Regions from separate parts of the Homo sapiens genome. Here region 2 is linked to region 1. Evidence: fine-mapped expression QTL. A gene starts in region 1. The other region holds a variant in brackets. All regions are shown on one strand. Distances are from middle to middle. Region 1 holds the start of KCNQ1 (potassium voltage-gated channel subfamily Q member 1). Region 2 overlaps KCNQ1 (potassium voltage-gated channel subfamily Q member 1).

Evidence for each region. PIP is the estimated chance that this variant, and not a neighbour inherited with it, causes the effect.
Region 2: its variant is fine-mapped to the expression of KCNQ1 in whole blood (TOPMed, PIP 0.97).

What each region holds. Positions count from the first base shown.
Region 1 is chr11:2,442,198-2,447,557 of GRCh38, reverse strand. KCNQ1 (potassium voltage-gated channel subfamily Q member 1) reads right to left here and starts at 2,550. Exons shown (of 16, transcript NM_000218.3): 1 at 2,074-2,550. The coding sequence starts at 2,459. It overlaps TRPM5 (transient receptor potential cation channel subfamily M member 5), which reads left to right and starts at 3,044. Exons shown (of 29, transcript NM_014555.4): 1 at 3,044-3,127. RefSeq lists silencers at 2,561-2,630, 2,641-2,750.
Region 2 is chr11:2,845,835-2,851,194 of GRCh38, reverse strand. KCNQ1 (potassium voltage-gated channel subfamily Q member 1) reads right to left here. Exons shown (of 16, transcript NM_000218.3): 16 at 2,090-3,428. The coding sequence ends at 3,192. All of the region lies in intron 2 of KCNQ1-AS1 (KCNQ1 antisense RNA 1), which reads left to right. Among named protein-coding and RNA genes, the nearest start is that of KCNQ1-AS1, 13 kb to the left of the region's middle. The variant T/C (reference allele first, on the strand shown) is at 2,260.

The DNA of each region.
Region 1 (5,360 bases):
TCCTGCCAACCTCCTAGGGCACTGAGGGTGGGAGCGCATCTCCCAGGCCCCCACCAAGCCACATGTCCTGCCCAGTCAGGGTCCACCTCCAGTCCCACCCCACATGGAGGTACCTGGGTTGGAGGCTGTTCATGACAACTTCCCAGGGCCAGGCACACGTCTTACAAGGACAGGACCCAGAACTGGAAAGGACCAGCCCCAGATCTGGCCACTTCACAGAAGCATCCCTTTCCTGGCCACCCCTTCACAGAAGCCATCCTGCCCCTGTCCCCAGAAGCCACCCCTGCCTTGCCAGCTCTGCGGAGGCTGGGCGAAGGTAGACTCTTGCTGAGCAAACTTCCGAGACCTAAACAATCCAAATGAGGAAGAAAACACAAGTGCAAGCAGAGACTTCCTCTGGGGCGTGGCGAGCCCTCTTCCTCCTCTTCCTCCACACGGGTGGCTGCAGTGAGCCCGGAGGCATGTGTCCACAAACCTGAATACAAGTGAGAATTGAGGGGGTCTGCGGGCACTTTGCCTTGGCCTCTGGCTGAGGAGGTCTTCCCACCCTTGGACATCTCAGAGAGTCTGGGGTCCGGGAGGCAGGTGGCCACCAGCACACAGCACCTGTGAACCTGGCATCTGCTAGACATTTGCACAGTGGCATCGGACTGGGTTCCCCTGGGGTCACTGCACACAAATATCTCCCAAACCCCAAGCCGAGCCCCCGCTGTTGCAGCCACGAGCAGAGCCAGCTCCTCTCACAGACCAGCAGCGGCTGTGGCTCAGGCACCCACTGACATGTCAGGAGACAGGGGCTTGGGAGCTGGGGTGGGGAAAAGTCTCCAAGATCACCCCCCAACCACATCTTTGAGGAGGGAGGTGGGTAAGACTTCCCCTTCCTGATGTGGAAGGCCACCTCTTAGCAAGGAAGGCAGTAGCCCTGCGACCCCTACCCCACCCCCTCACCTGAGACGATGCTTGAAGCCATTTGGGGCCTGGCTCCTGCTGTCACCCGCCCTGAGGCCCTGGTGGCAGCTGCCAGCAGGCATGGACAGGCCTCTGGATGCCCTCCAGCCAGTTCTCTACTGAGCCTGCCCGAGGCAGAGGAGATGCTTCCACCTGAGGACGCTCAGGGAGACCACCCTTCAGCCCTCAGGTGAGCCCCACAGCCATCAGCCATGGGATGTCTGGGTAGAGGCTCCCAGGCCAGAGGCTGGCACCACACCAAAAGGCCGCTGGCTGGGCAGCCAGGAAGTAGGGCCACTGGGGCAGCGGGGGAAGGCCCCAGGCAGGCATGGAGGAGAGCAGCCTGGACCTTCCCGGAGGTGACTTCCCAGGCCTGTCCCTGAGAAATCCAGTGCCCAGCCCTGCTCAGGCACGCTGTACCGGGAATTGGAACCACCTGGTAACAGGGGGGCCAGGTGCCTCTGCTACCAGCGCTGCTTTCTCCGGGAGCACAGCTGCCTCTTAGTGAGAGCTGCAAACGTGCCTCTCCGCTCTCTGCATCAAGCCAGGTTTTCATGAGCTTGGTTCAATTAGTTAATGTGGGGCCCGTGGGGACGGCCCGTGGCATGCTGAGCCCTCAGGGAGCACCGCCACCGTCACCTTCCTATCCTGGACAGCCCCCTGCCCCAGAGTCCACCTGGGCCTCAGGGGGTCTGAGATGCGGCACCGGACATCAGGGGCCTTCTCTCTTGGGGGCTCCTGAGCCTCGAGTCTCAGCCGACCTTGAGGAGTTATCTTACTGCACCCAAGGGTGCGCTCCCCAGCACGCTTCTCTTCCCAGAAGGATTCACACCTGGACTACCCTCCCGGAGGTGTGGAGCCAAATTCTGGGCTCCAGGTGGTCCCCTCCCCAGCCGGCTCCCTCCCCACGCCGGGCCTGCGAGAAGATGCGCACCCCCAGACACAGCAGCGCCTCTGAACTTCAAGGGAGAGTGCAGAGTTTGTGTTTCTGCGTTTCCCCACTTCCTTCCCTCCTCTGCTCCGGGGTCGCAGCTCCGACGGGGCAGGTGGCGCTGGGACAGAGCTCCCCCACACCAGCTCTCAGGAAGCACCTTCGTGCCGGCCGTCGCCGGTGGCGATACTCACACGGCGAAGTGGTAAACGAAGCATTTCCAGCCGGTGGGACGCTCGAGGAAGTTGTAGACGCGGCCCTGGACGTGGGTGCGCGCCAACACCGGGCGGCGCGTGCTGTAGATGGAGACGCGCGGGTCTAGGCTCACCGGCGGCCGCGGGCCAAGGTCGGAGGCAACTGGGGGCGCGGCGGGCGCGGCCGGGGACGCAGGGGGCGCGGGACCTGGGGCGCCGGGCGCGATGGGCGCGTAGAGCGCGCCGCCCGCCGGGCCGCCCTCCGCCAGCTCCAGCGAGAAGGGGCACTTCTTGGCCAGGCCCGCGCTGCCCCGCCGGGCGCCTGGCAGGCGGCCCCAACCCCAGCGCTTCCTCTCGGCCCTGGGCGGGGAGGAGGCCGCGGCCATAACGAGGAGGGCCTGCCGGGGGGCCGGCCCGAGCGGCGGCACCGGGAGCTGCAGCGAAGGCGAGCGCCCGGGCGCAGTGCGGGCAGCCACTGCTGCCAGCCCCGCCGCGGGGGGCCGCTGCCGGCCCAGCCCGGGCGCTCGGGGCGGGGCCGGAGGGGGCAGTGGCCGAGGGCCGGTCCCATGGGACGGCGTGCCCCGCCCCCGCCTGCACGCCCCGCCCCCGCCGGTCCGGCGCGCACAGGGCGTCCCTGCCCGCGCCCACCGGCTTGGCCCGCCCTCTCCCCACGGACCGGCCTGGCCCTGCCTCCGCCTCACCCCCTGGCTTGGCCTGTCCGCGCCCCCGCCCCCGCCTGCGCCCCCGCCCCCACCCCCACCCCCGCCCGAGCCCACCTGCTTAGCCCCGCTCGTGTCATCTATCCCGCTTGGCCCCGCCCCCTCCTCGCCCACCTGTTTGGCCCCGTTCCAGTGTGCATTTACCCCGCCTGGCCCCGCCCCCTCCCCGCCCACCTGCTTGGCCCCGCCCTCACCCACCTGCTTGGCCCCGCCCCGTCTGCATCTCCCCTGCTTGCTCCTGCCCTGCCCTCACCCACCTGCTTGGCCCCCACTTCTGATGCCCGCCTGCTCTGCCTGGCCCGGAGGAGGACCCCAGCTGCGCCAGGGAGGAAGGGGTAAGGCCTGGCCGATACCACGACCGAGAACGGCACAGCGGGGGCAGGAGGGGCGGGGTAGGGTGCCGGCATCTACTTTCCCTCCCTCTGAGCCACTCCGGAGTTGGGGTTGGGGGGAGGAAAGGGATGTCCTGGGTGAGGGTGTGCTGGCCCCGCGATCACTGTGAGCGCCCCCGGGTGCCCAGGCGCGCGAGCTGCGGGCGGCGAATACGCTCGGGTCGCTTCCCACCAGGGCCCTTGGACCGGGAGGGTGAGATGGGACCACCACTGTCAGGTACCTCCCAGTGGGAGCTGTGTGGGTGGGGAGCCGGCAGGGCTGCTGGGGGGTGGGGGCGGCACAGCCGGGGTCTGGACCTGGTTTGACTGCCGGGCATAGCAGGCGGGGCTGCCTGGGCAGTTAAAGGGAGAGGCGCTTGCGCCACCCTAGTAACTTGGAGAATGGGCGCCTTGTCCTCCCCACCGTCGAGACCGCGCTGCCGCTGCGCCCCGTGGATTCCCCTGGGTGGGGGTGGGTTGGTCACATCGGAAGATTTTCACAGGTCTCTGCACTGCCTCCCGCCCGCTACTGGCATTTGGGTCTCAGCACGTCTCAGGCTTGGGGGGGGGGTGGGGGGCAGCCAACAGAAGAGACCGGCTTTTTTCAGGATACTGCACACAGCCCTGAGGCAGGGACTAAAGGTGGAGCTCAGCGGTGACTCTCCGCCCCGCCAGGAGACCCATAACTCATGTGACACTTCCAGGTCGTCCCTGAGCACCCTGGGTCAATTTGATGTATCTACCACCCCCTGCCAAAAGTCTGCTCTTTTATCGTGGACGGAGTCCAGCCCAGGCCCTTGACGCCTGACTCCCCACCCTAGTGAGGTGCCACACAGGAGTGCACAGTCTGTATTTGCAGCAAGAGTGGATGGAGTGGGTCCCAGCTTGTGCTGGGCGCTGTGATAACACAAGGGAGGCCGAGGAGAGGGTACCTTCCTGGGAAGCATATCAGTGAAGGTGCAGAAGGGCAGCGGGTCAGAAGATGGGGGCAGTCAGTCAGCTCTGCAGGGCACACAGCACGCATTCAGCAGTTACTTTCCGGGTGAACATACATACACCTGCATGGAGTCTCTGCCTTCCCCTCCCACCTCAGCAGGAGGAAGGTGAGCTTTGAATAAGCAGCGTTTGGACAACTGGACAGTCATAAAGAAAGAAAAAGCATACCTTGGGTCCATCTCACCGCACACGAGAATAAATCTCAAATGAATCAGAGGCTCAAGTGTAAAGGGTGAGATGAAGCCATGCAAATTCTACAAGAATGTACAGGTCAATTCCTCAAGAACCTGTGAATCGGGAAAACATTTCCAACTATGACTTGAAATCCAAAAGCAACAGATAAAATAAGAAAAATTAAAATAGAAGCACCATTAGCAAAGTAAAGGAGACAAATGACCAAATGGGAAAAGTATTTGCAGTTTCGATCACAAAGGATTAATATCACTGATACATAAAGAACATCAAAACTGAGGTGAGGAACCTGCCAGACAGTCCTATAGAAAAGGGAGCAGAAGACATGAGCAGTTCATAGGAAATGGGGTTCATGACCTTTGCACTTATGAAAAAATGTTCAACCTCATTTATAACAAGAAAAATGCAAATGAAAAGTACACTCTGATACCACTGCTTGCTTATCAGATTGGCAAAAATCCAGACTTTTGATGGCAACTCTGTGGGAGAGGCAGCAGGCACAGGTGCACTCCTCATCACTGGTAGAAAAGAGACCTAGCGATATTACTAAATGTATCATTTGACACAGAAACCCCACTTCTAGGAAATAACCCAAAGATATGTAGGAAAAATAGAAAAGTACATATACATAATGATAGTCAAAACAGCATTTTTTATATTAGCAAAAGTCTAGAGACAATCACAATGTCCTTCAATCGCTTCAGCTGTGCTGTGGTACAGTCACACGATGGAGTGCCATGATCAATATGATCACTAATACTCAACCAAAGGATCCCAAAGAACTCTGTGTGTGTGTGTGTGTGTGTGTGTGTGTGTGTGTGTGTGTGTGTATCAAAGAATGATGCTAAATTCCTTTGGAACCAAGATTTTCAGTATAAAAGTGATACAGATTTAAAAAATCAAAGAAGTACAAACCAGTCCTTAAATTGAATGGACTATATTAGCATAGACTCCTCAGCTATTTTATCTTAGGAAAAAGGTATATCCTACTATTGTTCATTGTCAAGTT
Region 2 (5,360 bases), 400 kb before region 1:
TTGTTTGGCTTCCTTTATTAAGCACCTACTGTGTGCTCACATGTCTCATCTCCATCAAGCCCCTGCCCCGTACGCCCCTTCTAGGGGGCACTTTTACTGTTCCCCATTTCGCAGACAGGACTGGGGTGGGAGCTGAGGGGCTGCAGGTCGGCCCCGCCCTTGACTCCTCCTCCTCCTGGCTCCCTGGCCCGAAGATGGGAGAACCTCGGGCTTGGCCAGTGCCAGCCCTAGAGACGGGCTTCCCCATGGCCACGCCCAGCACCCACGAGGGGACATCTGGGGGCAGGCAACGGGGGAGGAGAGCCTGGCAGAGGAGGTGGGTGCCCCAGGAAGCAGGAGCAGCCCCTCCCCCAGTCACCCCCAGCAGATGCTCCTGGCACCCATTGGACCCCGAGGACCTCAATAAGGGAGCCCAATTTGGAGACAAAGGCCGGCTCTGGGGACAAACACTCATGGCTATCCTCAGCCAGAGCAGCCAGGCAGCCGCGGTGAGGCCACAAAGGGCCCGAAGAAAGGGGCTGCGGGAGGGGCCGTGAATGGGTCGGGGCTGCACATGCCACCGTTGCCCGGGCGACGGCCCTCTCGCAGAGAGGTCTGCCGGGCCATTGTCCGGGGCCCGCAGGACGTGCCACACACCAGATGGTCGTGTGCTGTCTAGGTCACTTATCGGGGGACAGAGTGAAGGAATGCGGCCGGCACGGCGGGCCGAGGCGCCATCTGTTCCCTCAGTCCACGGGCACCGGCGGGCATTGAGCACTCGGCCGGCCAGGCCCAGCCTCCGCCATGGCTTTAATTAGCTAATTCCATAATTGGGCTTTATTTCAGGTAAATTGCATTTCACACCCGAGAGGGCTGCAATGGCCCGTCCAGGAGAGGAGTCCTCGGGCACTTTGTGCGCAGTCCATAATATGGACAACAAGGCGGGCTGGGTGCCGGGGCCGCGCCCGGCCCAGATGGGCGGCCCCACGGAGCTCCCTGTGGGCCAGGGTCCCGGGGTGGGCGGCCGGGGCTGGGGGGCCTGGGCGCTGTGGAGGGCCCTGCTTTCCGGCCGGCATCCCCGGGTTTCCACAAATATTTACCCAACAAGGAAACAACAGTTCCTGCCTTTCAGTAACTGCTGCTCCCGCTCCTCCCGGAGGGGTGCAGGCCAGGGAAGCCTGGGAAGCCCCGTGCTGCCCCTCCACCTCGTCCATCCCGGTCAGTGCTGGCCAGGCCAGATGCCAAGACCCATGGGTTGGGGGCACGGGCCCAGTGGGCTTGGCACCAGGTGGGACCCAGGGCCTTTCCCTCTAACAAGGGCTTCCACCCCTACTCCACACAGAAACCTGGGGCCCCTGTCCCTGCCACCTGCTGCTGGCCGCCTCCTGCCCCCAGTGGACTCAGGACAGCCCCATCCTTGATATCTCAGATGCCCCAAGCCCTCATATCCTGAGACTTCGGGATGGGCTCTGGAAAGAGGACAGAAGGCGGCTGCAGTCCTGAAGGACTGAGAAACGGTCCAATAGCTGAGGTGGGGGCACAGCAGATGCACCTGCCCCGGTTGAGTGTGTCTGTGCCGAGAGTGAGGCACTCTTTCCACCTTAGGAGAGGCGGGCCTCACAGAAAGCTGCAGGAACAGGGTCAGGGCGAGCAGGGTGGTGGCCCCTCTGTCCCACTCAGAGAACTGGACAGGCTAAGGGAGCATCGTGTTACCAATGGGGAAATAGAGGCCCGGAGGAGGCCAGGGGTGAGCATATGGGAGCCTCAGGGGCCCCAGGCCTTCCTTGCACCACAACCCCTCCAGAGTTTAGCCCTTGGCATCCTGGGGAATGGGCCTGGGTGGGGCCTGCTCCCAGAGTGGAGCATGTGGGTCCTTGATGAAGGGCCACCCTGGCCTGGGAGGGGCAGACAGAGAGGCCCAGACAGAGCCCATCTGCCGCAAGGGCATAGAGTCTGCTGGAAGACAGGCAGTGACCACACTGTGACTGCACTTCATGGCCAGGGCCAGCCCAGGGCCCAGAACAGGAGCGACGTCGCTAAGCTAGAGCCTTCGATGGCATCTTGCAGCCCCTCTGAACCCTGACCTACTCCTCAGTACACGGACATAGCGTTCCTATTCCACAGCCACCTGGGCACTGCTTCCAGGGGAACTGCAGGGGTCCTGTCTGTGAGAGACCCCATGGATGCCCCAGGAACCAAGGTGAGAGCAGTGCCCAGCCCAGCCTGTGATTCTCCACGTTTATTAGGAAAAGCTTGCACAATTAATAATCAAAATCACAC[T/C]GTGAAACTCATTAAAACACAGATCCAAATCACCACAAATTATTGATTTCTATGCGATGTAATGCCCAGAAGGAACCCCTGTCCTGTGTAGGAACCGTCACTTCTCTGCGGCTCAGCAGCTGGCAAGGGGAGGTGGCAGTCCCCTTCTGTGTGTTTGGCTGGCTGCTGGGACTGGGCGAGGGGTTGGAGGCGGGAGCCCCACGCACAGTGGGCTCAGGGGCGGAGAGGCAGGGCTCCTCTCCAGCTAGGAAGAGCTGGCAGTCTAACCCAGGGAAGTGGGCGTTCCCCCCACTCAACCACGTGCCCTGGGGAAATGGTGAGACTGTCCCTCCTGCTGGAAGCTGGGGGCTCAGGAGCAGTCTCCACAGTCTCCTGCCCATGGGTCAGCATTTCCTGAGAGTGAGGGAGCCAGGCCCAGGCCCTCCAAATGGGCTCCTGGGCTTTTATTGCCGGCGGCCCTGTAGTCAGCGTGGGCTGGTCCTGCCCTGCCTGTGCCTGGCAGGGTCCTGGATTTGAGGCTGGGGTCCAGGGGTTGCTCTGTCTCCCCTCAGGAAGCCCCCTGGGCCAAGCAGGGTGGGCCTGCACTCAGCCTGTGCTACTTCCTGGCCATACATGGGCCAGGCCCTGTGCCCTGCCACTGGGTCCCAACCACCATGCCAGTGATGTCAACATCACCATGTGGGGGCCAGGGCGCTTGGGGTAACAACTCAGACCTGAGACGGGGCCCCCACACCGGCCAGGAAGAGGTGGCCTTGCTGAGCCCCCAAGTGCAGGCTGTGCCAGACAGCATGGTCCATGGGGTATTGGGGCCTCTGAGAGTGGGGCTCTTCTCTCTGGGCCTTTTAGGAGGTGGCCTCCTTCAGAGAGGGCCAGGTGGGGCCACTCTTGGCCTCCCCTCTCACTCAGGCCCATCCCCCAGCCCCATCCCCTCCTCAGGACCCCTCATCGGGGCCCCTCCTGGGCACGGTCAGCTGCTCGTAGGTGGGCAGGGTGTTGCTGGGCAGGAAGAGCTCAGGGTCGACGGAGCCGCCACTGCCGCAGGGCTGGGTGATGTGGGCCCCGCCCTCTCTGGGGGGGCCGCCGCTGCCGGGGGTGCTGCCACCGTGCAAGGAGAGCAGCTGGTGAAGCATGTCGGTGATGAGTGCCAGCCTCTGGTCCAGCTGCGTCACCTGCGGGGACAAAGGCAGACGAGAGAGTCAGTGGTGGGAAGCACCCAGGTGTGCAGACAGCCTCAGGGCCCAGGTTTGGGGCCAGAGAAGGGAAGGTGCCAACCGTCTCTGCAAGTGCATGCTGTATGCAGGCGGCACGCACGTGTGCACCCTATGTCTGCAAGGCCCTCGGTCGCGCCTGTGTGTGTGCAAGGAATGTGCATGTGTGCCGATTGGAGTCCATCCCGTGCGTGCTGGGAGTCCCTATATGTGTCCACAGGCATTCAGGCTCAGGGCCAGGAGCTCTCCTCTCCTCCTTCTCTGCTCCCCAGGCTGGCCGGCCTTCTGTGCCACATCCCCGCATGGCAGGGTCTGCACCAGGGACCCGGACCTGAAATATTTGGGTTTGCGGCAGCCTTTGGCTTCTTGAGGCCAGGCTTGGGGACATTTGGGTTAAGGGTCAAGAAAGGCTGGGGGCTATGTCTACTGTGTCTGGAGGAGAACTGGACAGAGGGCAGAGTTCAGCAAGGCTGGCTCATGGGCAGGGCCTGGGGTGGTTGAGGAGGCAGAGGGCTTGGGCTTTGCCTGGGTGTGCAGGGGATGCCCCTGCTGGGCCACTTCCAGGAGGGGCTTGCAGGGCACAGGGCTTGTGCCTCTGTGATGCTTTCTGCAAGGGGGTGGGGGTGGGTTTTTTTGTCATCCCCCAGGAACCATTATGCCATGTCTTTAACCTAGCGGGGACACCACTATTTTCCCAGACACCATCTGCACCCACATTCTGTGGTCAGAGCAGTGCCCTAGAGCGTGCCCTCTGGCTAGCCATGTGGCCTCCACCTTCTCAGGGGCTGGTTCTGCAGTGAGCTATGTGCCAGGGTGGCTGCCCTGCAAAGCTGGCAGGGAGGTCAAGGCAGGACAGAACCCGAAATGCACCCAGCACAGAGAGTAGGTGATCAGAGGCCTCGCAGTGCTGCGGAGGCAGCAGAGAAGCCCCAAACGAGTGGACAGCCAGGTGATCTGAGAGCTCCTTGGAAGGACAGCACCGCTGGGGAATGAGGCTGGAGCCCGCCCCGGGTGGGAAGTGGCCATCCAGCCTTGATGGGGAGACTGGAAGGCCCTGGCCGGCAGGCCGGCACCCTGGCACCCTCAGAGCAGGTGCTGGGTGGAGCAGGGCCAACCCCAGGGGCAGACTAGGGCAGGTGAGGGAGTCCAGGTTGGGGACCCCTCTCCCTAGGAGGTTGGACCTGGGGGCCCTAGCATGAGTGAGGGTTCGGGGAGGGCGCACAGCTCTGTTGGTGGCCACAGGAGACAGGGCTGGTCCTTCAGCCTGCGGTGTTCTTGCAGGAGAGCCCCTCAGCGTGCTCTGTGGAGAATGAAGTAGACCCTCCCCCACCGTGGGTACCTGGAGGCCTGGAAAGACCTAGAAGTGGTGGGGGAGGGGCAAACAGATCAGCACGCGATAAGGGCTGAACAGCAGAGCTGCTTCAGGGAAACGTATGGCTCCAGAGAGAGGCACGAAGATGACTCAGCCACAGCAACGTCAACCACTGGCCCTAAGCACAGGCAGCAGGCGGGAGCTGGCCCGGTCCACCTGGCCGTGCACTCCAGGGGTCTGCACCCTAGGCTGCGCCGGGCGGGCCTGGTCCCTCATGCGCCCGGCCCCACTGCTGATCCAGCCGGATAGGCTTGGGGTGAGGTGTGGGCCAGGGCTGGGTTCTGTGCGGGTGAGACAACCCCAGGGAAGATGCTGCTGGGTGACGTGGGCACAAGCCCCGGGATGGCCAGAGAGGGAGCAACCAGTTTGCTAGGGTCTGGGTGGACCCGGGCCAGCTTCAAAGGCTGGGTGCTGTGGTCGTCACCCACAGCACCTACCACGGAGGCTGAGCAGGCTAAGGAAGAGGCGGCCAACAGGGTGCTGTGAGAGGCTGAGATGAGAGGGGGGCGCCTGCCTGAGTG